5 separate regions of the Homo sapiens genome follow, and regions 1, 2, 3 and 5 are each reported to be linked to region 4. The links are microRNA targets in miRTarBase. Many come from high-throughput screens and were not tested one by one. Region 4 holds a microRNA gene; each other region holds the end of a gene's coding sequence. Distances are between the middles of the regions.

Region 1 (5,107 bases), not on the chromosome of region 4:
GTAGCTGACCTGCCCCTTCTCTCTAGCTGCTTTTAATATTTTTTCTTTCACATTGACCTTGTATTTTTAGTAGAGACAGGGTTTTACCATATTGTCCAGGCAGGTCTCGAACTCCTGGCCTCAAGCAATCCACCCGCCTTGGCCTCCCAAAGTGCTGGGATTACATGCATGAGCCACTGTATCCAGCCTGAGTTCTGAAATTGAATCAGTAATAATAATACTCCTACCAACTGGAAAAGGTCCCAAACAGATTCACAGCCAAATTCTACCAGACATATAAAGAGCTGGTACCAATCCTACAGAAACTATTCCAAAAACTTGAGGAGAATTCCTCCCTAACTCATCCTATGAGGCCAGCATCATTCTCATACCAAAACCTGGCAGAGACACAACAAAAAAAAAGAAAACTTCAGGCCAATATCCCTGAAGAACATAAATAAGGAGACCTGAAAATGTGGAATCGACTTTGGAACTGGGTAATAGGCAACAGTGTGTGCAGGGGAACTGCCTTTTATGAACCAAAACCCAGCAACACATCAAAAAGCCAACCCACTGTGATCAAGTGGGCTTTATTCCTAGGATCCAAGGTTGGTTCAATATATGGAAATCAATGCATGTAATTCATCACATAAATAGAACTAAAAACAAAACCACATGATCATCTCGATAGACACAGAAAATGCTTTCAATAAAATTCAACATCCCTTCATGGCAAAAACCCTTAAAAAACTATGAGGCATCAAAGGAACGTAACCTCAAAACAATAAGAATTATCTATGACAAATCCACAGCCAACATTACACTGAATTGGCAAAAGCTGGAAGCATTCTGCTTGAGAACTGGAACAAGACAAGGATGCCCACTCTCCCCACTCCTATTCAACACAGTACTGGAAGTCCTAGTGAGAACAATCAGGCAAGCGAAAAAAATAAAAAGCATCCAAATAGGAAGAGAGGAAGTCAAAATATCTCTTTTCACAGAAAATGTGATTCTAAACTTAGAAAACCCCATAGTCTCTGCCTCAAAGCTCCTAGATATAAACTTCAGCAGTCTCAGGATATAAAATCAATACACAAAAATCAGTAGCATTTCTATACAACAATAATACCCAAGCTGAGAGTCAAATCAAGAATGCAATCCCATTCACAATAGCCACAAAAGACTTAAGTAGCTAGGAATACAGCTAACCAGGAAGGTGAAAGATCTCTATAATGAGAATTACAAAACACTGCTGACAGAAATCAGAGACGACATAAACAAATGGAAAAAGATTCCATGCTCACAGATAGGAAGAATCAATATTGTTAAAATGGCCATACTGCCCAAAGCAGTTTACAGATTCAATGCTATTCCTATTAAACTACCAATGGCATTTTCACAGAATTAGAAAAAACTATTTCAAAATTCATATGGAACCAAAAAAAGCCTGAATAGCCAAGGCAATCCTAAGCAGAAAGAACAAAGCTGAAGGCATCACATTATCCAACTTCAAACTATACTACAAGACTACAGTAATCAAAACAGCATGGTACTGGTACAAAAACAGACAGACCAATGGAACCAAATACAGAACCCAGAAATAAAGCCATACAAACTACAGCCATCTGATCTTCAATAAAGTTGACAAAAATAAGTAATGGGGAAAGGACTATTCAATAAATGGTGCTGGGATAACTGGTTAGCCAAATGCAGATTAGAACTAGACACCTTCACCATATATAAAAATAACTTAAGATGGATTAAAGACTTCTATTAGTCTGTTCTTGCACTGCTATAAAGAAATAGCTGAGACTGAATAATTTATAAAGAACAGAGGTTTAACTGGCTCACTCCACAGGCTGTACAGGAAGCATGGCAGCATCAGCTTCTGGGGAGGCATCAGGGAGCTTTCAGTCGTGGCAGAAGGCAAAGGGGGAGCCAAGCATCTTACATTGCAGGAGCGGGAGCAAGAGAGAGAAGGGGGAGGTGCTACACACACAGATCTCGCAATAACTCACTATCACGAGAACAGCAGCAAGAAGGATGATGTTAAACCACGAGAAACCACCCCCATGATCCAATCACCTCCCACCAGGCACCACCTCCAATGCTGGGGATTACAATTCAACATAAGATTCGGATGGGGACACAAATCCAAACCCATATCAAGACTTACATGTAAAACCTAACTGAAAAAACAAAACAAACAAAACCCCTAGAAGGACACCTAAGAAATACCATTCTGGATGTAGGCCCTGGCAAAGATTTCATGAGGAAGACACCAAAAGCAACTGCAACAAAAACAAAAATTGACAAATGGGACCTAATTAAACTAAAGAGCTTCTCTGCTCTGCTAAAGAAACTATCAACAGAGCAACCAGACAACCTACAGAATGGAAGAAAATATTTGCAAACTATGGATATGACAAAGGTCTAATATTCAGAATCTATAAGGAACTTAAGCAAAAAACAAAACAACAACAACAACAACAACATTAAAAGTGGGCAAAGGAGGCTGGGTGTAGTGGCTCACAGCTGTAATCTCAGCACTTTGGGAGGCTGAGGAAGGTGGAACACTTGAGGTCAGGAGTTCGAGACCAGCCTAGCTAACATGGTGAAACCCCATCTCTACTAAAAATACGAAAATTAGCCGGGTGTGGTGGCACACACCTGTAGTCCCAGCTACACAGGAGGCTGAGTCATGAGAATCGCTTGAACCCAGGAGGTGGAGGTTGCAGAGAGCCAAGATCGTGCCACTGCACTCCAGCCTAGGTGACAGAGCGAGGACCCTGTCTCAAAAAAAAAAAAAAAAAATTGGTAAAGGACATGAACAGACACTTCTCAAAAGACATACACATGGCCAATAAGTAAATGAAAAAATGCTCAACATCACTAACCATTAGAGAAATGCTAATAATCAGAGAAATCCATCTCACCCCAGTCAGAACAGCTATGATTAAAAAGTAAAAAGAAACATATGCTGGCAAGGTTGCAGAGAAAAGGGAACACTTACACACTGTTGGTGGGAATGCAAATTAGTTCCATCTCTGTGTAAAGCAGCATAAGGGATTTCTCAAACTTAAAACATTCTACCATTCAACCCAGCAATCCTATTATCAGGTATATACCTAAAGGAATATAAATTATTCTCCCAAAAAGACACATGTACACATATGTTCATCACAGCACTATTCACAATAGCAAAAGCATGGAATCAACCTAAATACCCATCAACAGTGGACTGGATAATGAAAATGTGGTACATATATATTATGGAATACTACAGTCATAAAAAAGAACAAGATCATGTCCTCTGCAGGAGCATGGATGGAGCTGGAGGCCATTATCCTAGGCAAATTAATGCAAGAACAGAAATCCAAATACTCTCACTTATAAGTGGGAGCTAAACATTAAGTACACATGGACACAAAGAAGGGAGTAATAGATACCAGGGCCTACCTGAGAGTAGAGGGTGAGGATCAAAAAACTAGCTATCAGGTACTATGCTCACAACCTGGATGACAAAACACTGACAAAACCCCTGCAACACAATTTACCCATGTTACAAACCTGCACATGTACCCTCTGAACCTAAGAAGTTGGAAAGAAAAAAAATAAGACATAAAAAAAAGATTGCTACAGCAATCACTTTTCAAACCACCGGTATTAATTTCTGTCCTGTGATTCAAGAAATATCTTCACCACAAATTTAGAGTTAATGGATTAAGAAAATGATTTCTAATTAACTGTGCATCATTGTGCAGTTGTCCCTTGGTATCTATGGGGGACTGGTTGCAGGTTCTCCCTCCAGATACCCAAATCCACAGTTGCTCAAGTCCCTTATAATAAAATGGTATAGTATTTGCATATGACCCATGCATATCCTCCCATATTTTTAAAATGATCTCTAGATTACTTATAATATCTAATATAATGTGAATGCTACATAAATTGTTATAGTGTATTTTTTAGAGAACAACGACAAGAATAAAAAGTCTGTACATGTTCAGTACAGATCCAACTATCCATTTTTCCCCCCAAATATTTTCAATCCACAGTCGATTAACTCCATGGATATAGAACCCATGGATACAGAACCCATGGATACGAAGGGCCAACTGTATTCTCAAAGTTAAAAAAAAAATAAACACTGGCACTCTGAATACACTGTAATGGAAAATGTCAGGGTTTATCTTAAAAAAAAGTAACGGATTAAAAACAATGACAACCCTAAGTATTTAAAGAGATTTATTAAATCATCTTATCACAAAGATGGAAACATATACAAACTAGAAACATGCAACCATCATCTTCCACAGTCAAGTCACAATGTCAAATATTTTTCTTGCCTCTGCAGATGAAAAGTTCAGATCTTATACCCAACTACTTACTCACCCCGAATATTTAAGTCAGTCTTCCTGAAAGTACTCAGGGTAGCAAGTAACAAAATGCAAACGATTATATAAAGAAAGTGCAGTTAAAAAGGAAACTATGTGGCAAGTACCCTCTTTCCCTTCCCACCCCCCAATTAAAGGCAAACAATGGCACTTTGCTCTTGCTTAACCTAGATTGTCTTCAAAAACTATTAAAATGTAAAAGACTTAACAAAAAAACAAAAAGACGTTTAACAGATGTCAAAAAGCTCCTTAGTGTTTGAAAATAAATGCTTAAACAAAAGACAACATATTTTATATCAAACAAGTTTGAAGAGCCCTGAATTGCAGCATTCTGTAACATAAACAAACAAAAAGCTGGTATAGGATTTATTGTCAAAGGCAGAATTTCTTCAGGCAGGTAAGTAAGGAGGTGGTGGTTCTTTTTCAGGCATTTTCACGGCCATTTCATAGGTTGGCAAAACGTACTAAAGAGAGAAAAAAAATTGTATCAGATTTAATTCTCCTTTAAAATCCTTTGTGAGATAATTCAGCTTTCAGACTTTATGCCCTAAATAGGGTTATACAAAACCATAAAGAAGAGCTGAAGAAACTGTTAGCTAAAATGTTCCCAAGTAGATGCCTCAATAACCTGGAATTTTACCAAGATTGCTAGCGAAGGGGAGGGTGGAGAGAGGGAGGTGGGGAGAGAGAGTCCTGCTTCTGGACAAGGATTCCTAGACAGGCAGGCAGTG
Region 2 (5,107 bases), not on the chromosome of region 4:
AGCCAGTTGTCAGGATAAAGAGGCAATAGACAACGGGTATTGAGACCACAAGTGTAGATTATTCATTGTAGAAGCTTAACTGGAGAATAACTGAAGGGATCAAAGAAAGGGACTCTTCTAGAAATAGACCTTTGGGTTTTGAAAGCAAGAAGAAAGGAAATAGTGTAAGGAATTATAAATGGCATAGAATTGGAGGGGGAAATCATTTAAAAAATGTGTTTGAATTGAAGGCCCTTTGGGAATGGGGAAGTGATAACTCTAGGGGAGTTGAAAGACTTTGTTTTAGAGTAGAGGAACTATGAGGCAGTGTACTTGATCGAACACCTCTGATAGTCCGAGTATGGTTACCTCAATAAGTAACCATTCCTCTTGCTCCAAGCCTGATGGGAAGGTAAACATAAGAATAGAAATTTCTTGAGCTGAAGTGAAGTGAAGGAACTCCCTCCCGAAAACCATGGCATGTCACGAGGAACGTTTATTGTAGGTTAGGCGGTCTGGTGCCTCTAGGGGGGACAATCAAATGATACAGGACCTCGAAGAGTCTTACTTTGGATTTCTGTGGCTTTATAATGTAGTATATTATGTAGTTCATTGCTGTGGCTTTATGCTTTTTTATTATTTACAAGTGATTTACTGATTTGTGAGCTCTTGAAACTGTGTCATTGCATGTTATGTTTACCCTGATAGTTGCATTTGCTTATAATTCTTTTTGCTTTGTCTTCAGTTCAGATATTTTGGATGGCAGTAGTAGCAGCAGTGGCTTATCCTCAGACCCGCTGGCTAAAGGCAGCGCTACCGCAGAGTCTCCAGTAGCATGCTCCAATTCATGCTCTTCGTTCATCTTGATGGATGATCTCTCACCCAAGTGACTTAACCATTTCTGATTCAACGTTTTAACTGCTGTTTCCTACATAAAATGTTTAGTGGGGAACGCAGAGAACTTTGATCCATAATGAGGATTAAAGTTTTACAGATTTCACACATTCTGATGCTATTATTACTCTTTGGCATCTCTCTTCTCCAAAGTTCAATTTTGTGAGCCTAGTGACCTTACTAGTATCTGGTTTTGCTGATCTCATTTTGGATTTAGTGATTAAATCTCAAATGCTGATTTTTGATTGCTTAGAGGAATCTTTTTTCTTAGTGCCTCAAAAAACACCTATTTTGAGTCTATACATTTAAGAAAGGCACTGATGTGTATTGCCTTTAATGGTCCTTTTCCGCAGCAGTGATATGACAGATTTGATCAGAAATTCTCTTGCTTGAGAGATTTTTTTTTGTCCTCTGTTGACTACATAGTTTCAAATCTCTCTTTATTTCATGATGATATATAAATTGCTTTTAATTATATTAAATTTTTATTTTTCTGCATCAGCTTCAAGTACATTATTTTGTTTCCCTTTCCTGTTTGAGCCGCTTATGCCATTTCTCACAGAGGGGAAGAAATACGTAGTTGCTTTCATTACTCTTATTGCTTCTTTGCTGTTGGGGTGTGTGAAGTGAGCATTGATTTTAGTGCTGAGAATGTAAACGGACTTACAGGATGCTTGGATTAGTCATCACAGGTTCTTATGACTTTGCTACCACAGTTGATATATTTCTCCTCAAACCTGTTGCCCTAAGGAATATATAAAATATTGTTGATATTTCTAGGTGGTGTTATCAAGGAGAAGAAATTCCTGCCTTGACCAGATGTGTGGAGCATCTACAAATGAATGAATAGTTATTTACACACAAACCACTGTGTACAAAAGCGTCCATGGAGCTGTCAGTGTCTCGAGTGGTATTATGAGGCCTCAGGTGCCTTGGGGTACATTGTCATGCTATAAGGGATGTATATCATAAGGTATGGTGGAAGAGGGGCCTTATGTGAATGATTGCCACATACTGTTTCTGTTGCTGCTTTTTTTCCGATTCCTTTTTGTCATTGGATTTGTTTGTTTTGTCATGTGGTGAATGGTGTTTTAGTTATTGTGTTGCTGCCAGAATCAGAATCCAGTTCTTGTTCTTACTGCCTTATAGTTATTGTGTTGCCACCAGAATCAGAATCCAGTTCTTGTTCATACTGCCTTGTAGTGAGGGCAGTTTAATATCTACAAAGAAGCTTTTAGAAGCTGAAAAAGTCAATGTGATTGTGCATTCTGCTTTTAAGAAGCTGTTTCAGCTATGAACTGTGTATGTGCTATAAGTGTGAGGTACCATAAGTTATTTAATTTTTAAAAGAGGAAACTCCTGAGTGAGCTGTTTAAGAAATCTGAGTGTGATCTATTGTTACGTTATTTATAACTAGGTAAAATGTCTGTCGTGATAGATTTCTTTTAACGTTCAGATACTGTGGTTGGGTTGTCTATATTTAATATGCAGATTTGCCTGCTGGAATCATAATCCATTTTTAAGTGAATGTAAGAAATGAAAACTACTGCATTTGTGTCTTTTGAAGGCAAGGATCCTTGGATTTTAAAGGAAGAGTATGTGCTTTGAAGGCACTCAGAGACTAGTAATAGCATATGGTTTGAAGGGAAACCCATTCTCTTTCAATTACAAGAGAGCATCACTTAGCGTGCAGTACTTCTGTTACAGCATCCGATGTGTCCTTTATTTTAAATTGTAACCATAACAGCCATTAATGGCTTTATTTCTTGTATTGCTCTCATCTGGGAAAAGTCTCTACTTCTTCAAACGTAACATAAATCTATTATGAAGCTTGTCCCCTAGTATGCCATTATAAAGAAAAAATTCTTCGATGGTATGCAGTGTATCTATTCTGTTTGTAAAAGATCATGTCAAAATGTTCTGCCTCTATAATGATAATAGATGGTTTTGTCTTTCAGGATATTTATCCACCTACTGTCTTCTTTGCCTTAAAGGGACACTTGGCCATCATTTTTAGGCTCGAACTTAACACTGTTAAGAAATAACTGAAATATGATGGTATTTACATTAATTTTTGAAATTCAATGGTGGGATAGAATTAGGTCAGGAAATGGAAGTTGTTCCAATGGTGTGAGAACTAGGAGACAAGATGATTCACTTTATTATTTAAACCAAGCTTCATTTTTAGTTTTTGTTGTTTAAATGGACTGGAAAGTTAAGTTTTTGCAGGGATTGTTTTGAAATAAAGAGATATGCTAACTCACAGATGAACTTTGTTAAGACCCCTTTATTTTTATATAAAGTCTAATATTTGAAAAGCGATTGTTATAAAGTAAAATTCTCTCTTCCTATTCTAATATATATCATATATTTCAGGCTTCTATTTGAAAACAGGTATAAGAGATGATATGATACAACCCTATAGATAATGTTTTTTGCTTGATTGACTTATATAATCACTGTTTCATGATTACTGCTTTTGGAATAATAGGAAGTTTTGTGAAATGCTGGCCTTGTGTATATCTTAGAATGCAAATTTAATAAAGTGTGTATACATGCATAAAATTTACTAGTGTTTTAAAAGTCTGTCCTTTGTTCTTAATAATAATTATTTTCTGCCCCTATATCCCAGTAGTTTATTCTCTGTGTCTAATTGCAGGTCAAGTTTGAATAAAAGGATATCAGAAACACAAAAGAACGAATAGCTATGTTGAAGTTGGGGCTGTTTGCCAAAACGAAGTGAAACCTCTCCACATAATCAAATTTTCAAGAGTATTTTGTAGAATTTGACAACTTAGAAGGTTCTTGCCAGGGTCATACATCTTTCTTCCTCGTTTTCAATTTGGTTTATCTTGTTAAAATTTTTACATATTGATAAGCCTCTATAAATTATTTTTAGAAAAAGATGAGGGTAGATAAACAGGCAAAAGGGTCCGGGCACAGTGGCTCACGCCTGTAATCCTAGCACTTTGGGAGGCTGAGGCAGGCAGATCACGAAGTCAAGAGATCAAGACCATCCTGGCCAACATGGTGAAACCTCGTCTCTACTAAAAATACAAAAATTAGCTGGACATGGTGGTGCACACCTGTAGTCCTAGCTACTCGGGAGGCTGAGGCAGGAGACTCGCTTGAATCCGGGAGGCGGAGGTTGCTATGAGCCGAGATTGTGCCACTACACTCCAGCCTGGTGACAGAACAAGACTCCATCTTAAAAAAACAAAAAACAGGCAAAAAGCCTTTTATGTGTGATTCAGATTATTAAGTTTATCTTCAGTTTCTTTTTTTTTTTTTTTTTTTTGAGGCAAAGTTTTGCTCTTGTTGACCAGGCTGGAGTGCAGTGGCACAATCTCTGCCCACTGCAACCTCTGCCTCCTGGATTCAAGCATTTCTTCCTGCCTCAACCTCCTGAGTAGCTGGGACTACAGGCGCCCGCCACCATGCTTGGCTAATTTTTGTATTTTTTAGTAGAGATGGAGTTTCATCATGTTGGCCAGGCTGGTCTCAAACTTCTGACCTCAGGTGATCTACCTGCCTCAGCCTCCCAAAGTGCTGGGATTACAGGCGTGAGCTACCTCGCCTGGCCCTATCTTCAGTTTTTAAGAAATAACATGAGCTGCTTTATTTTAAAATACATTTTGGGCTGGGCATGGTGGCTCACGCCTGTAATCCCAGCACTTTGGGAGGCCAAGGCGGGTGGATTGCTTGAAGCCAGGAGTTTGAGACCGGCCTGGGCAACATGGCAAAACCCTGTTTCTACTAAAATTACAAAAATTAACTGGATGTGGTGGCGTGCGCCTGTAATCCCAGCTACTTGGGAGGCTGACGCTTGAACCTGGGAGGCAGAGGTTGCAGTGAGCTGAGATTGCACCACTGCACTCTAGCCTGGGTGACAGAGCGAGACTGTTTAAAAAAAAAAAAACAAAAAAAAACCTTTACATTTTGAAATTTGAAATAATTTCAAACTTACAAAAAAGTTGTAAGAGTAGCTCAAATAACTCCTATATATCCTTCACCCAGGTTCCTTAATTGTTAACATTTAACCACATTTGCTTTGTCTATCTGTCTCTCCTATATATGCACTATCATTCTGTCTCTCCCTGTGTCTCTCTGTGTGGGGGGGATGTATATACATATATATATATATGCACGTATACATTTTTTTCCTGAATCATATGATGCCCCATTGCCCTTACATGCTTCAGCGTAAATTTCTTAAAGATATTCTACATAACCA
Region 3 (5,107 bases), not on the chromosome of region 4:
AGGCGGATCGCACCACAGCACTCTAGCCTAAGCAACAGAGCAAGACTCCATCTCAAAAGAAAAAAAAAAGAGTATTAAATAACATACACACAAAGACAAATGCAAAAGTACTAACCTGTATGGACTAGGACTATAGGAAAACCTGGAATTTGAGCATTAAATTTGGCTCTGAGCTTACTTTCCCACCCTGAAAGTTCTCCAAGGAAAATGCTTGTGCAGCTGACTGCCAACCCCCCCAGATTCCTCACGTCCCGCACCCTTCTCATTATCTGGCCTGCATCTCTCCTGCTTCAGCACCTTCTGACTCGTTTGGCCTCCTGGATGCCATTCTCCTTGTCATTTTTCTTGGACTGGGTGACCCATGTCTCTCCCTTTCCCTCAGCCTTCCTTCAGATCAAACCACCCTGATCCTCATGTTTCTTCCTATCTCCTAGATATTTGGCATGATCTTCAGTATGATCTTGTGCTGTGCTATCCGCAGGAACCGCGAGATGGTCTAGAGTCAGCTTACATCCCTGAGCAGGAAAGTTTACCCATGAAGATTGGTGGGATTTTTTGTTTGTTTGTTTTGTTTTGTTTGTTGTTTGTTGTTTGTTTTTTTGCCACTAATTTTAGTATTCATTCTGCATTGCTAGATAAAAGCTGAAGTTACTTTATGTTTGTCTTTTAATGCTTCATTCAATATTGACATTTGTAGTTGAGCGGGGGGTTTGGTTTGCTTTGGTTTATATTTTTTCAGTTGTTTGTTTTTGCTTGTTATATTAAGCAGAAATCCTGCAATGAAAGGTACTATATTTGCTAGACTCTAGACAAGATATTGTACATAAAAGAATTTTTTTGTCTTTAAATAGATACAAATGTCTATCAACTTTAATCAAGTTGTAACTTATATTGAAGACAATTTGATACATAATAAAAAATTATGACAATGTCCTGGACTGGTTTTTGTTTTGTTTAATTATTTTGAGAGCTATTTGGTTTGCAAATGTCTTTCAACTCCTATTAACTCCACCTGCATTTTTTTTTTTTTTTAAGACGGAGTTTCGCTCTTGTTGCCCAGGCTGGAGTGCAATGGCCCGATCTTGGCTCACCACAGCCTCCACCTCCTGGGTTCAAACAATTCTCCTGCCTCAGCTTCCTGAGTAGCTGGGATTACAGGCATGCACCACCACACCCGGCTAATTTTGTATTTTTAGTAGAGACGGGGTTTCTCCGTGTTGGTCAGGCTGGTCTCGAACTCCCAACCTCAGTTGATCCGCCCGCCTCAGCCTCCCAAAGTGCTGGGATTACAGGCGTGAGCCACCGTGCCCGGCCCCACCTGCATTTATATGAGAAGTAGATTGGGAGGTTGCTCACCCCAGTTTACTAATGAAGAAATCTAGATGTGGAGAGATTAAAGGATTCTGATCCAAAGTCACACAGGTGTCAACAGAGGAGTCAGCACCAGCACCTGGTCCTCAGACGCTCATTCAGCAGTGGGGTATATCTTGGGGATATGACAGTACACCTCACACCATGGTGGCAGGAACTTTGTTTTATTCACTACCTAGCACCTAGTATCTGGTGCATGGTAGTGTTCAGTATTTTTTATCAGTTAATATTTTTTGGTTGAATGAATAAATGAGTGTGTACCCATCAGGGTTTCATCAGAAAAGCAGAACCACTAAGAGGTACTTGTTTGAAGAGATTTGTTGTGGGAATTTGACCTTACACAGTCACTGGCACTGGGGCTGCTTAAGCAGGCTCTGCAGACAATCGGGAAGGACAGACGGATATAAAGTAAGGGAGGACAAGCCCAAGTGGAAGCCCTTGAAGGCAGACACATCCGTCTGTGTCAGTTCTTTTTTGTTTTTTTGAGACAGGGTCTCACTCTGTTGCCCAGGCTGGAGTGTCATGGCCCAATCTCAGCTCCCTGCAGCCTTGACCTTCCTGGTCTCAAGCAAATCCTCCCAACTCAGCCTCCCAAGTAGCTAGGACTACAGGCATGAGCCACCACACCTGGCTAATGTTTGTATTTTTTGTAGAGAAGGGTTTTGCCATGTTGCCCAGGCTGGTCTTGAACTCCCGGTCTCAAGCAATCCACCTGCCTTGGCCTCTCCAAAGTGTTGGGATTACAGGCGTGAGCCACTGCACCCGGCCCCATGTCAGTTCCTGCCTCTGCTGAGGTGAGCCAGCAGAGAAGCCACAATTCGTGTGAGCTGTAAAATGACTGCTGCTTCACTTCCCACCTCCAAACCTTCCACAAGTTTCTCCTCTGTGCTCCACTCTAACCGGAAACACACGGGAAGGGAATTCTGGGAAGTGTGGTTCAGCTTACCCAGGTGGACAGATCACAAAGCCACCGCTGCATGGGAGGTGTGATCCGTGCCCAGACTGCACTGTCGTGGGCAATTCGGAGGCAAGCAGGCAATGATGGCAGAGTGGGATGAACAGGAGAAAGGTGAAGTGCAGAGGCATAAGAAACCGATTTTTATGTTCCACTCCTTGATTCCATTTGGGTTCCTCCTTAACATTACAAAAAGAAAACCAGGAAAGAAGGATCAAAATGTCCCTGAATGCCATTACATTCAAACATCAGAACACCAAAGTTGATAGCAGCATTATTCACAACAGCCAAAAGGTGCAAACTCAAGTGTCCTTCAACAGATAAATGGATAAACAATACGTGGCCTATCCATATGATGGGCTAGAATTCCACCTTAAATGCTGCAACATGGATGAATCTTGAGTACGTTATGTTCATTGAAATAAGCCAGACACAAAAGAACAAATATTCTACAATTCCCTTGATAGGAGGTACCTAGAATTGGTAAATTTATAAAGAAAGTAGATTAAAAGTAACCAGAGGCTAGGGAGAAGGGAAAATAGGGAGTTATGGTATAATGAGTACAGAGTTTCTGTTTGGGATAATGAAGAAGTTCTGGAAATAGATGGTGGTGATTGTTGCAAAACTTTGTGAATATACTTAGTGCCACTACATTATATGCTTAAAAATTGTTAAAATGGGCTGAGCACAGCGGCTCACACCTGTAATCCCAGCACTTTGGGAGGTTGAGGTGGGAGGATTGCTTGAGCCCAGTCCAAGACCAACCTGGGCAACATAGTGAGACTGCAACTCTACAACAAAAAAAACTGGCTGGGCATGGTGGTGCACACCTGTGGTCCCAGTTACTTGGGATGCTGAGTTGGGAGGATCACCTGAGCCTGGGAGGTCAGGGCTACAGTGAACCAGGATCTCACCATTGCACTCCAGCCGAAGCAACAGAGCAAGACGCTGTCTAAAAAAAAGAACAAAAAAAGGGTCAAAGTGGTAAATTGTGTATTATATTTTACTAAACACACACAAAAAAATAGCTGGTTTGGCATTATTGAGTGTCCTTGCTGCTCTGTGGCCCTAGGTCCCTTATTAATCTGACGGCTGACGACTGTTCCCGTTGTGGAAGTAACAGGTCAACCATTAATTTTATTTTATTTTATTATTTTTGGGAGATGTCGTCTCGCTTTGTCTCCCAGGCTGGAGTGCAGTGGCATGATCTCGGCTCACTGCAACCTCCGCCTCCCAGGGTCAAGCCATTCTCGTGCCTCAGCCTCCCGAGTAGGTCGGACTACAGGCACCCACCACTATGCCCAGCTAATTTTTGTATTTTTAGTAGAGAAGGGTTTTGCCATGTTGGCCAGGCTGGTCTTGAACTCCTGACCTCAGGTGATCCACCCGCCTTGGCCTCCCAAAGTGCTGGGATTACAGGCGTGAGCCACCACGCCTGGCCAACCATTCATTTTATATAGGAATGGAGGAGACCCCTGCGTGTAACCTCCAGCTCCTTCTAGAGAAAGCAGGTCTCAGAGGCTACGAGCACATTCCATGCTGCAGCTTTGCTGAAGGGTAGGTTAGCGTGGAACAGACTGCAGCTACTTAAATCCTGGAACACCTCGGGGCTATCTATATCCTGCCTTTCTGTTTGTTGTTAATAATGTAAGGACAAATGGGCTAGCTTAAGCAAAAGTGAGCAATTAACGCAAGAATGAAAATGGTTGAGCCTTAGGAAGATTCCAGAAACATGGACCAAGAACTCCTACAGCTCTCCATTTCTGCGCTACTATATTTTGCTCTTCGAGGAGACCAACTTTGTTACTCAGCCGCTTCCCGACCGGCTGCCCCCCAGCTCCCAAGCTTACACAGAGGCAACCTCCATTAGCCCCACTTGAAGTTTTAGGAGAGAAAATTTTGACCCAGTTTGAGTCAAATGTCTACCTCTGTTCCTTCAGCTAGCAGCGGGCAGGGAGGGGTGCGTGGAGGAAACACTCAGCCACCCTCTGTGACCTGCTGATTGGGCCCAGCGCCAGAAGACAAGGGATCATTGAAAGCTGGCAGACATCCCAAAAGGAGCTGGCTGTCCACAATCAGGCCGAAACGAGCCTCCCTTGACTCTTGGCGGACAGGGCCAGGTGTAGCTCTGCAGTTTAGGGAGAACCAGGACAGCCTGCTGCTCTCGGGTCCTGAAGGGCCTTGGAGCAAAGGCCTTTAGGAAGTTTTAGGTCACAAAAAGGCAACAGACACTGCCAAAAGCAACAACTGCTTTGGGTCCAGAAAGAATCTCCTTGAGCATAAGAGAAGCAGTTGTATGGAGGTGTTGGCCTCTTGGCTCAACTGTGAAAAGCAGCCCAGGGGCAACAAATTTGAATCAAAGCAGCTGGATTTAGTAAAAGGCTATTACTTTACCCAGTGCCCTCAAGGACTGAAAGTGCTTTAATATCCATAAACCCCCCGGACTCTCCTCCCAAGGCCCTACTCTCCAAAACCACGTCCTCCAGAGGGAGTTGAGTGGCCAAGGGTGGGGCCAAGACTCCACATAGATCCAGGGGCTCATTCCATGATGCTCTCATTTCCTAGAGTCCTCCAGGTGTACAGGGAATTGTTTCACTGACAGACAGGCCAGGATATCTCATAAGCTTCTTGGGCACAAGTTGGAGTGGTATGGGTGGAATTCCAGCACAATTAGGCATATCGTGGTTGGGTGAACACAACCATACAAGGGGGAGAGGTCTCTACCAGTGGCCTGTGCAGTCCTGCCATGTTCTTTCCTGGTCAATGTTTTAAATGATAACT
Region 4 (5,107 bases):
AACAGAGCAACATCCTGTCCCAAAAAATAAAATAAAATAAAACAATAATAGATAACTTTTATTTAGAGTAATTTATTCGCTAAGCCTGGGTCTAAATTAAAAGAAGCCCTTCCAGTCCTACTCTACTAACTCTAATTGTTTAAAAATTTTTAATTTTAATAAAATTAGACTTTAGATCCGAAATTCATCTCTAAAATAAAAATGACCTAGCAGAGAAATTTGAATAAAGAAAAATGTGCATGCCTGTAGTTCTAGCTACTTGGGGGGCTGAGGTGGGAGGATCACTTGAGCTCAAGAATTTAACACTGCAGTGAGCTATAATCACACCACTGCAATTCCACCTAGGTGACAGGGCAAGACCCTGTTGTCAGAGGCATTTGAACCAGAGCCAACTCCATCTTAAATAGGGGCTGGGTAAAATAAGGCTGAGACCTACTGGACTGCATTCCCAGGAGGTTAGACATTCTTGGTCACAGGATGAGATAAGAGGTCACCACAAGATACAGGTCAAAAAGACCCTGCTGATAAGACAAGGTAAAGAAGCAGACAAAACCCACCAAAACCAAGATGACAACAAAAGTGACCTCTGGTAGTGCTCACTGTTCATTATTCATTAATTATAATGCATTAGATTGCTAAAAGACACTCCCACTAGCGCCATGACAGTTTACAAATGCCATGGCAATGTCTGGAAGTTTCCCTGTATGGTCTAAAATAGGGAGGAACACCTCAGTTCTGGGGAAAATCCCCACCCCTTTCCAGGAAAACTCATAAATAATTCACCCCTTGTTTAGTATATAATCAAGAAATAACCATAAAAACAGCCAGCCACCAGTCCTCAGGGCTGCTCTATGGAGTAGCCGTTCTTTTATTCCCATACTTTCTTAATAAACTTGCTTTCACTTTATTCTATGAACTCACCCCAAATTCTTTCTTGCCCAAGATCCAAGAACCCTCTTTTCAGGGTCCGGATTGGGACCCCTTTCCAGTAACACTGTCTCGAAAAAGAGAAAAACATCCTAACTAAATTAGAACTTCATTTTGTAAAAGTCTTTATTAACAACAACATAGACATTTACACCTGCTCTTATTATAGGGGGAGTAGAGTGGATAGAATAGGGACTTTGAAATCAGTTATTTGTTCTTAAGCAAATTACTTAATCCCTGCATCTCAGTTTCTTCATTGGTAAATTGATAATAGTACCTCATGCTTTATAAGGTTGATGTTAGAACTGAATAAACCATAAGAAAACATCTAGGTGACTTTCTGGCACATAACACACACTTTATAAATGACAACTGCTTTTCTATGTCTTTCCTGAACTGTTCTGAGATATGTGCTCCCTAAACATAAAATAAAGAACTGACACCATAACTGTAAGCATTATGTATTATTACACTGACAGGCAACCTGAAACCATCAGTGTGGCACTTTCAAAAGGTCTATATTATCAAAGTAACTCTTAAGAGATAACTAGAGGCATAATATAAAGATTCATTAATATTGCACCTTTCAATGGTGAGCATTTATAATATGAAAGCAATTCTAATTGCTTTTCAAATTCTTCAAAAAGAAAGCGATAAGATTTCTATTCAAGATTCTTATTCTTATTACATTTCTATGCAAGTTTCTGCCTCCATGTCTAAGATCACATAGCAGCATTCAAATTTAAATACAGAATGATGACAGATTTCAATAATCAAAAGACTGCATCCATTCATATCATACAATTACAAATCTTTTCTTCTACAAATATGTATTCCAAAAAATATACTTAAAATAGATTTATATATATATATATATACACACACACACACACACACACACCCCCCATATGTATATATATACACACACTCTTCACTTTCAAGAGTGGCAAAGTCTTTCCATATGTATGTATGTATGTCTGTTACACATATGGAAAGACTTTGCCACTCTTTAAAGTGAAGAACTTTTGGTTCAGCTTCTTTATTTAAATAAAATGATCAAAACTATTTAAGATACATTGGTGTAAAAGAGTTTTTACACAATGGTTCTTTGAAGTCTGAAAATGTTTTGGCAAAGAGAAAGCTCTTTACAAAACTCAACATGAAGCCTGTACTTCTAAAATAATCCATATAAGTATTAACCTGCATAACCAAATAATAATTTGAAAACATGGTTTTACTGCTTTGTATTCACCAAAAAGAGGGGTGAATAAACTACTAGCCAAATGTTAAGAATATTAAGAAGATCTTAGCCTATTATCTTTATAAATGACTCACAATTTCTACTGACACTAATATTTTTATTATGTCAGCAATAGTAATACTTTACATTCATGTAGACTTTTCCATTGCGAAGTACTTTCTCATATATTAAACTTACGTAACCCTGAAAATAGGTATGGAAAGCATTGTGTTCCATTTTACAGGTGAGAAAACTAAGATCCAATGAAAATTTCCAGGGTCACGTGGAGAGTAACTGGATACAACATCAGTCCCTCTCTTCCAGCTAGTCTTCCTCAGTAGAATTAGGCCCCAAAATGTACTATTAGATTGACAGTAATGTAAAAGTTAAGACATTATTAGTCTCAGTATTTTTTCTTCTTGGATTTTACTAGATGAAATAGAACGTACAATTTAAAGTATCTCCTAACAAAAGAAAGGTTATAAGGTACATGTATAAAACAGGGAGTTCAAAATTCAAGGAAAGCAAACATATATATACATACCTAAATATAATCCAAGGCAATAAACTGCAGTCCAGGGCATAGAGATTCATAACACCATGCCTAGAATTCAGGACTTTGCTTCTGACTTGCTTCTGTAACTTACACAAATCATGGTGACTAAGTAAAATTTGAATTGCTATCACCTAACCAGGCAATTTTCTAAGAATCAATTTTGACTGTCTTAAAATAATTTACAAGCCTGAACAATGTTGTATTCAAATAATAAAAATAACTGCCTATGAATTAAATTTTAAAAACTGCACCAAACTGAGCTATATACCCCATTAGTATTCTTATTCTATTACTATGAGAATGTCAAACACACTTCATATTATACATTTGAATATTTAAGGAATGCTAAGGTATTATAAAACGCCATGGAGACATAAAGGTCATAAAGGTAGTTTAACCTTTGAGGAATTCTGCAGTTTAAAAATGAGATATGTACACTTAATAATTACGAAATTATGCATTGCCAAGGAATGCCCAGAAGAAACGCAAGCTAAAAACAGTGACAGCATAAAGAAAAATTCAACCTCTAGACTAAGCAACTAGAAGATGCTTCATGAAGGGGGGAACATGGCATTAAATGAGTTACTACCACAGGTAAAAAGGGAGGAAATCAAAAGGTGTGTTTTTTGTGGGGTACTGATAAAGCCCTGAGAATGGTGGCAGTGAGAAGGTAAATAGTATCATAAAACACAAATAAATAGGCCAGGTGCGGTGGTTCACACCTGTAATCCCAGCACTTTGGGAGGCCAAGGCAGGCGGATCACCTGAGGTCAGGAATTCAAAACCAGCCTGGCCAATGTGGTGAAACTCCATCTCTACCAACAATACAAAAATTACCCTGGTGTGGTGGCGTGTGCCTGTAATCCCAGCTACTCAGGAGGCTGAGGCAGGAGAATCGCTTGAACCCAGGAGGCGGAGGTTGTAGTGAGCCAAGATAGCACCACTGCACTCCAGCCTGGGCGACAAGAGCAAAACTCCGTCTCAAGAAAACAAACAACAACAACAAAAAATGCAAATAAACAAATGTTTTCATCCACAAACCACAGTTACCTCTTTACAAAATCAATTCAAACGTAGGAGCAGTTTACCCAGAAGATAGTGTGAGATTATTGTTCTTTGTGGTTACAAATATGATTCTTGACAATTACCATGCACATGAATGGGGTTCTACTTGACAATGAGAAATGAGGACTCGGGTTTTTTCCTCTAAAAGACCATCCTAAATAAACAGGTCTATAACAGCATTTTTCCTCTTGTAGCTCTGATCTTATAATCAACTGAGAAAAATAAAAATGAAGGGAAACTGAAATTATGACCTAGCCTAAAAGCAGAGGGGGAAAAGGATAAGTGTGGGTTCCTGTAAACACTTTTAAGATGGTCATTTTCACAATCAGCAAAGAGGAGTGTTTATCCAGTAAGTTAAAAAGAAAATTCTGAGAAAGTCTTAAAATCTTCTGAGAGATGACAGGGAGGCATCAGGCTTTTTTTTTTTTTTAAAACCTGGACAGGAGATAGAATAAATGACATTTTACAATCAAAATTACTTCACTTATTTCATATATAAAGAAAACTAAAAATATGCAAAAAGCCAGATTTTAAGTTGTGTTGGTGAGACTTTCTTATTTTTAAAAATTTCACCCAGCTTGGTAAGAATGATGAATTGCTTTACACTGGGCTTTCAAAGGTTTCTAGAATTGCTCTCTCCTATGCTATTTTGTATTTTGTTTCAACCAATTTGGAGATAGGTGTTTTCCTGAAAATTGTGTTTAACTCTCGTCCTTTAAAAAATAAAAATCACAACTAGAAATGTATAAAATGCTACACAGTAAGTTTGAAGGAAGGCTTAAATAGTATTCAATCCTTTCCAAAAAAATATTGTTTTCATAAAAAACATAAAAATTGAGGATAATCAATTTTTATACTTTCAAATATCACCCAGTTATTTTTGACCAAGTAGTTAAAGGAGAATAAACACTAGCAACATTGCTATTGGGAAGTGCTGAGTTCTGATAGCAGACACATTGTAGTAAGTTTTTCATTAGCATTTTTCTACAAAGTTATACTTAACATCACTGGCAAGATACTGTTGCCAAATTCTGAGTGGTCAGTGTCTCTCCTGAACCATGATGAAAGCAAATGCTCTCAACTAAGTAATTTCACATCTAACAACCAAAATCCAATTGGAACAGCCTCTTTTCTTAACACATATTGATAAAATTGTCATAGATGCACAGACTATAACAGCGAATTATTATTTTTTTTTTTTTTCGAGACAGATTCTCACTCTGTCGCCCAGGCTGGAGTGCAGTGCCGCAATCTCAGCTCACTGCAAGCTCTGCCACCCATGTTCACGCCATTCTCCTGCCTCAGCCTCCTGAGCAGCT
Region 5 (5,107 bases), 84 Mb from region 4:
AACCTGCTGCAGTACTCTTTTCCTGTCACACCTTATCAAATGCAATAGCCATCCAATAAAGTAACCCAGTTAAAAACTTAATTTAAATTTGTTTGATAGGTAAAAATTAAACTTAGCAGCACCACATTGAATGAACAAAAGCTGTAGAGTCATTGCAAGTGTCATGCTATTCATAGAGATAAGTGCTTCCCATCCATAATATTCTGCAGTCTTTGTGTATGCCTGGCCTTAGTAAAAGGAGGGATGCCCTTAGCACCCTAAATATTGCTTCTACCCCCATCTTCTTCCTGTGTTCCTTAAACCTCTATCACCAACTTAAAAATGTTCTCCAGGCATTGTAAATGAAGAAACAGCTTAGACCTAGTTATAAGCTTTTATCCAACTACATATCTGTCTGATTTAATAACTTGGTGTTTATGTTTTTAGGAACATAGCTACAGTGTAATGGACAGTCCAAAGAAACTTAAGCATAAATTAGATCATGTGATCGGCGAGCTAGAGGATACAAAGGAAAGTCTACGGAATGTTTTAGACCGAGAAAAACGTTTTCAGAAATCATTGAGGAAGACAATCAGGGAATTAAAGGATGAATGTCTGATCAGCCAAGAAACAGCAAATAGACTGGACACTTTCTGTTGGGACTGTTGTCAGGAGAGCATAGAACAGGACTATATTTCATGAAATAATTTCATGTTACGTTCCACCTAAAATTGTCATTGGTACAAATTTTTATAAAATCTCATTTACCATCACTAAATAATATCCATCATTTAAAGTGCTGCTTTGGATTCTCTGGAGCATTATGCATTATAGTTGTTATCCAAAGACTTTTTTGAAAATATGCAGAAATTTGTGGTAATTATGTATTTGTGTCTTGTGACAATTATGTTTTATAGACCTACACTAGTGCCAGGTCACTATTGTAAGATGTTAAAATCTCAAGAAAATTTCACAGAGCTAAAGAAATGATGTCAAATTAGTCACATTAAGCTATAGTAGAAGGAATTGGACACTTCTCCAGATATTTGGCTTCAAAGGAGTACCTTTACTTACATGTGCTTTATGGTAAGTACATTGAATTTTACTTTAAATGCATTTTACTACAAAGCACAATTCATTTGTAATGCATATCCATCTTGGATTCAATCCAAGGTGCTTTAGCTATCAGTAGTACCAAAGGATCTTTTTACAAGGCTTCCTGTGGTATTGACTCTGAGAATAACACATAGTGAAGATCTGTGGGCTTTTAAAATTGTTCACAGCCAATTTAAGAAGACCCCTCATGAAGTCTCAGTTTTCAGTACAGTACATCATTCCTCCTCACTAGGAGCACTTTGATGTAAACCAGAATAGCTTTAAAAAGACAAAAAGGATCGTAGATCTGATTTTTAAATGGTTGGTTGCTCTGACAGATCTGAACACTTTGCTTCATGACTATTTCGTCATAAAGGTATATGTTTAAAATCTGAATGGCAGTACTAGCTCTATACTTTTAATACTGCTTTGTATTTTATATGTAAAGTAGTATTGCTGACATTTTAAAAAAATACAAAATACAAAAGAAACCATTAGAAATTAATAACTGTGGCTCTTCCAGTTGAAATAGGAATTGGAGAGAAAGGATTAGAATATTTTAATTAGGGGAGTAGATTATTGTCCAAAGGCTTTTATTTAGAGAAACGGGTAATTAAAACAGCAGCTTTAGAATAGCTTCTTACTGAATATGCAAAAGAATAATTCCTTGTTATTTCCTAATTGATCCAAGTCTCATAAATTTAGCTTTTGTCATAATTCCTTACCGAAAACAACTGAAATTGAGAGTCATAAATACTGTGGGTTAGAATAAAAACCATTTGCCAAAGCAACACTCTACTTAGAAGCACATGTACATACATGGACCTCATTCAGAAGTCCATGTTGTAGCAGTTAGAATTTGAGTATCAGCCATTTCATTGTAGTAACAAAAATTGAATTGCATTTTGTGCTCAGTTGTTTATTGTAATTTTATTTTTGTTACATTAATATTAGTTAAGATATGGTCACTTGAATTTTTTGTATTTAAGAATTTTCTGTTTTAATGCATGTTATACTTTTATGTAGGATTCCAAACCTTCCCTCTAAATGGGATTTAACCCACATCTGCGAGATCAGCGTTATGCTAAGAGGAAATCACTGAGGCCATATCTTTTTACAATCTGAAAAAAAAGTAGTAAAAAGGTAGTTAAAAAAAAAAAAGGCCGGGTGGTGGCTCATACCTGTAATCCTAGCACTTTGGGAGGCCAAGGCAGGCAGATCACTTGAGGTCAGGGGTTCAAAACCAGCCTGGCCAAGATGGTGAAACCCCATCTCTGCTAAAAATACAAAAAAAAATTAGCCGGGCATGGTGGCACGTGCCTGTAATCCCAGCTACTTGGGAGACTGAGGCAGGAGAATTGCTTGAACCCGGGAGGCGGAGATTGCAGTGAGCCAAGATCACGCCGTTGCACTCCAGCCTGAGCAACAGAGCAAGACTCCATCTCAAAAAAACAAAACTACTTTCATTAATTACCCATTATTTATTTTAGTTACTTAATTTTGAGTTCATAAATGGCCACCCTAATGGAAAGTTTGGGTATGATCTTAGGTTTTATGGAGATGTTTTCAATAGAGATTATTTTTCCCTCACCCTATTTGTGAATATATAAATTAAAGTAAGACAATGGAGTAAGTAAGAGGGTAGATCCAAACACAGTATGTCTAAATTCTAGCACTCTACTGGCTGCTTAGAATACACCAAACCTGGAAGACCTTTCCAAGAGTAAAATCCCAGTCTGCCACTATCAAAATTGCCACAGTCACTTTTACTACTTGTGTTCATAGTAGACTCAGCACTTCTTTTTCACTGGACCTAGTATAACTGAGAAATAAATAACTGTGTGCAAAATATTGGTATCATTAAGGACCCAGAGCTGCCCATTTTCTCTTTGTTCTAATAGGGAAGCAATTACTGATAGAAATGTGAGATTAAAAATAGGGTCCTCCCTGCTGCTCCAAACAAATGCCTAAACACAGTATGTATCTCAGTCCTCTGTTCCCAGAGATTCCACCCTAGCCCAGGAAAGAACTGGCCTGTGTAAAGCAAAACCCAAGTCATCCCCCTCCAGAAATTTCTCTGGCAGCCAAGCCTGACCCTAAGGGTTCCACTTTGCTTTAAAAGCTAGGAGTGGCCTCTAGAGCCAGGAACACATTAATACAACAGTTCAACCTCAGCACCAAGTCAGGTACGAAGCGCTTGATACGTGGAATTTTTCTCTATATCAAGTTTAAATTTCTGGAAATAGACTTTGGTTGCTAATGACAATTACAGTTATACCATAGTCTGTAATTTGAGAAAAGGTGAAATGTATTTAATATATATTTAGTTTTAATAAAAAGATAAAATTATTACAGAAATAATTGAGAGAGAGAAAATCTATTATAATTTATTTGAAAAATAAAACATTTTATCCAGTAATGTGTTATGTGGTTTTATACATTGAGTTATTCAATAAAATGGGCAGAGAAAAATGAAGAGTACGTACGTAGAGGTTTTGCTCTAATTTCTCCTCCACCAATAACTCTAATATGGGGTCTGCAAGGTTAGATGACCCACGTAGCAGGCCAGCTTTCAGCACAATATGGACCTATCATAGAGCCCTTTTCTGCATTGGCCCTCACTCAAAACTGTCAGATATGATGTCACCCAGTATATAAAGGAGAGCAGCATTCCTAGGTGTGAAATATGCTGCCTTTAGAACCCAAAGAGGCCTGTCAGGCATTGTGCTTTCTTCTTCATAGTGGAACATACAGGTTGTAAATAACTTGTCTCTTACTTTAGAGGGGATGTCTTAGCATGCCGCAGATCACTGGATACTTCTCCCCCAAAATTTTACTGATGTTTATAGGCCCCTGAATTTCATAAGTTTTATCTCACCATCTGGAGCACATGTGCTTTATCAAGGCCTCCAATTAACTAGTCCTCCCATTGGATTAACATAATCCATCAGTAGAGTGAACTAAGTGATTTTCCATAGAATGTCTGTCTGGTCTAGACTTCTTTCAATTATAACAGAAGCAAGATCATTAACATAACCTTGGGGACAAGACCATATATGTATACTGTGGTTTTTTCCATGTGAATGTGAGCTGTTTCTGATCCTTTAATAGGGATGGAAAACCATGCACCCAATGGTTGTATGGCATCTACCCATAGACATGTTAATCTGCTCTAACAAAGATGCCACATCATGCATAGCAGCTGTAATCAGGGCTACTCGTTGGTTGAATTGTCCTTAGTCCAACTGTCATCTTGCAGGGTCTGTCTAAATTTTGCAGGGGACAGAATGGTGAATTAAATGAAGAGAGATGGTGGAGGCCACCATTCATGTCTATCTTGTATGTCTGTAAAGGTAGCACCTCAGTGAGCCCCACAGAAAACTCTGAAACTGGGGTCATACACAAAAATGAGTTAACATAGGCATGAAACTGCTATCCTTGGAAAGGCCTGCAAGGTTGCAAGGTTAGTTCTTGAGTGGCATCTGGAAATTTGGATTCCACCATTCCCTAACTGATAAGAGTAGCTCACTGTGCCAGACTGTTTGTACAGACAAGGTGGTTTATGCAGAACACCCAGTTTCCTTCTGGGAGTCTGGATTTGAGAATCTGTTAGGTAAAGGGGGGCTGTATGACCAGCCCCAAATAAAACCTTGAACATTGAATCTTTAATGAGCTTCCCTGGTAGGCAACGTGTATTGTCACAGTTCAGCACTATAAGACTTAAATGTGTCCTGTGTGATTACACTGAGGAAGGACTCAGAAGCTACACCTGGTTTCCTCTAGACTTTGTACCATGTGCCTTTTCCCTTAGCTGATTGTGCTTCTTCTTTGTATCCTTTTGCTATAATCATAGCCTTGAGTACAACTATATGCCGAATTCTGTGAGTCCTTCTAGTGAATCATGAAACTTGTGTGTGTGCTCTTGGGGACCTCAACACAGATGACCTTCCAAACTTGTCCTGCATTAGGGCAAAGAAGCTATATTAATCCGTTTTCACACTGCTGATAAAGACATACCCGAGACTGAGCACTT

What was found. Region 4 holds the annotated microRNA hsa-miR-3688-5p (AGUGGCAAAGUCUUUCCAUAU, at 1,870-1,890, shown strand). A microRNA usually pairs through its seed, bases 2 to 8, with sites in the 3' UTR of a target mRNA and lowers its output. Matches are read on the target gene's strand: a 7mer-m8 pairs with bases 2 to 8, a 7mer-A1 pairs with bases 2 to 7 and ends in A, and an 8mer does both.
Region 1: the mRNA of LAPTM4A is a reported target of hsa-miR-3688-5p. Seed matches in the 3' UTR shown: 8mer at 4,472-4,479.
Region 2: miRTarBase lists PABIR2 as a target of hsa-miR-3688-5p. Seed matches in the 3' UTR shown: 8mer at 1,878-1,885 and 7mer-m8 at 2,031-2,037.
Region 3: miRTarBase lists CD9 as a target of hsa-miR-3688-5p. Seed matches in the 3' UTR shown: 7mer-m8 at 600-606.
Region 5: miRTarBase lists THAP6 as a target of hsa-miR-3688-5p. Seed matches in the 3' UTR shown: 8mer at 2,826-2,833.

The regions. Positions count from the first base shown.
Region 1 is chr2:20,028,440-20,033,546 of GRCh38, forward strand. LAPTM4A (lysosomal protein transmembrane 4 alpha) reads right to left here. Exons shown (of 7, transcript NM_014713.5): 7 at 4,211-4,840. The coding sequence ends at 4,766. Among named protein-coding and RNA genes, the nearest start is that of MATN3, 18 kb to the left of the region's middle.
Region 2 is chrX:134,767,901-134,773,007 of GRCh38, reverse strand. PABIR2 (PABIR family member 2) reads left to right here. Exons shown (of 10, transcript NM_001387468.1): 10 at 725-3,442. The coding sequence ends at 869. Among named protein-coding and RNA genes, the nearest start is that of PABIR2, 27 kb to the left of the region's middle.
Region 3 is chr12:6,237,329-6,242,435 of GRCh38, forward strand. It overlaps CD9 (CD9 molecule), which reads left to right. Exons shown (of 8, transcript NM_001769.4): 8 at 435-938. The coding sequence ends at 500. LOC105369625 (a long non-coding RNA gene) reads right to left here. Exons shown (of 5, transcript XR_001748979.2): 4 at 2,318-2,505. Among named protein-coding and RNA genes, the nearest start is that of CD9, 39 kb to the left of the region's middle. RefSeq lists enhancers at 3,894-4,394, 4,395-4,895.
Region 4 is chr4:159,125,643-159,130,749 of GRCh38, reverse strand. It overlaps MIR3688-1 (microRNA 3688-1), which reads left to right and starts at 1,856; the gene lies at 1,856-1,948. All of the region lies in intron 1 of RAPGEF2 (Rap guanine nucleotide exchange factor 2), which reads right to left. MIR3688-2 (microRNA 3688-2) reads right to left here and starts at 1,945; the gene lies at 1,859-1,945.
Region 5 is chr4:75,526,534-75,531,640 of GRCh38, forward strand. It overlaps THAP6 (THAP domain containing 6), which reads left to right. Exons shown (of 5, transcript NM_144721.6): 5 at 427-3,493. The coding sequence ends at 681. Among named protein-coding and RNA genes, the nearest start is that of THAP6, 15 kb to the left of the region's middle.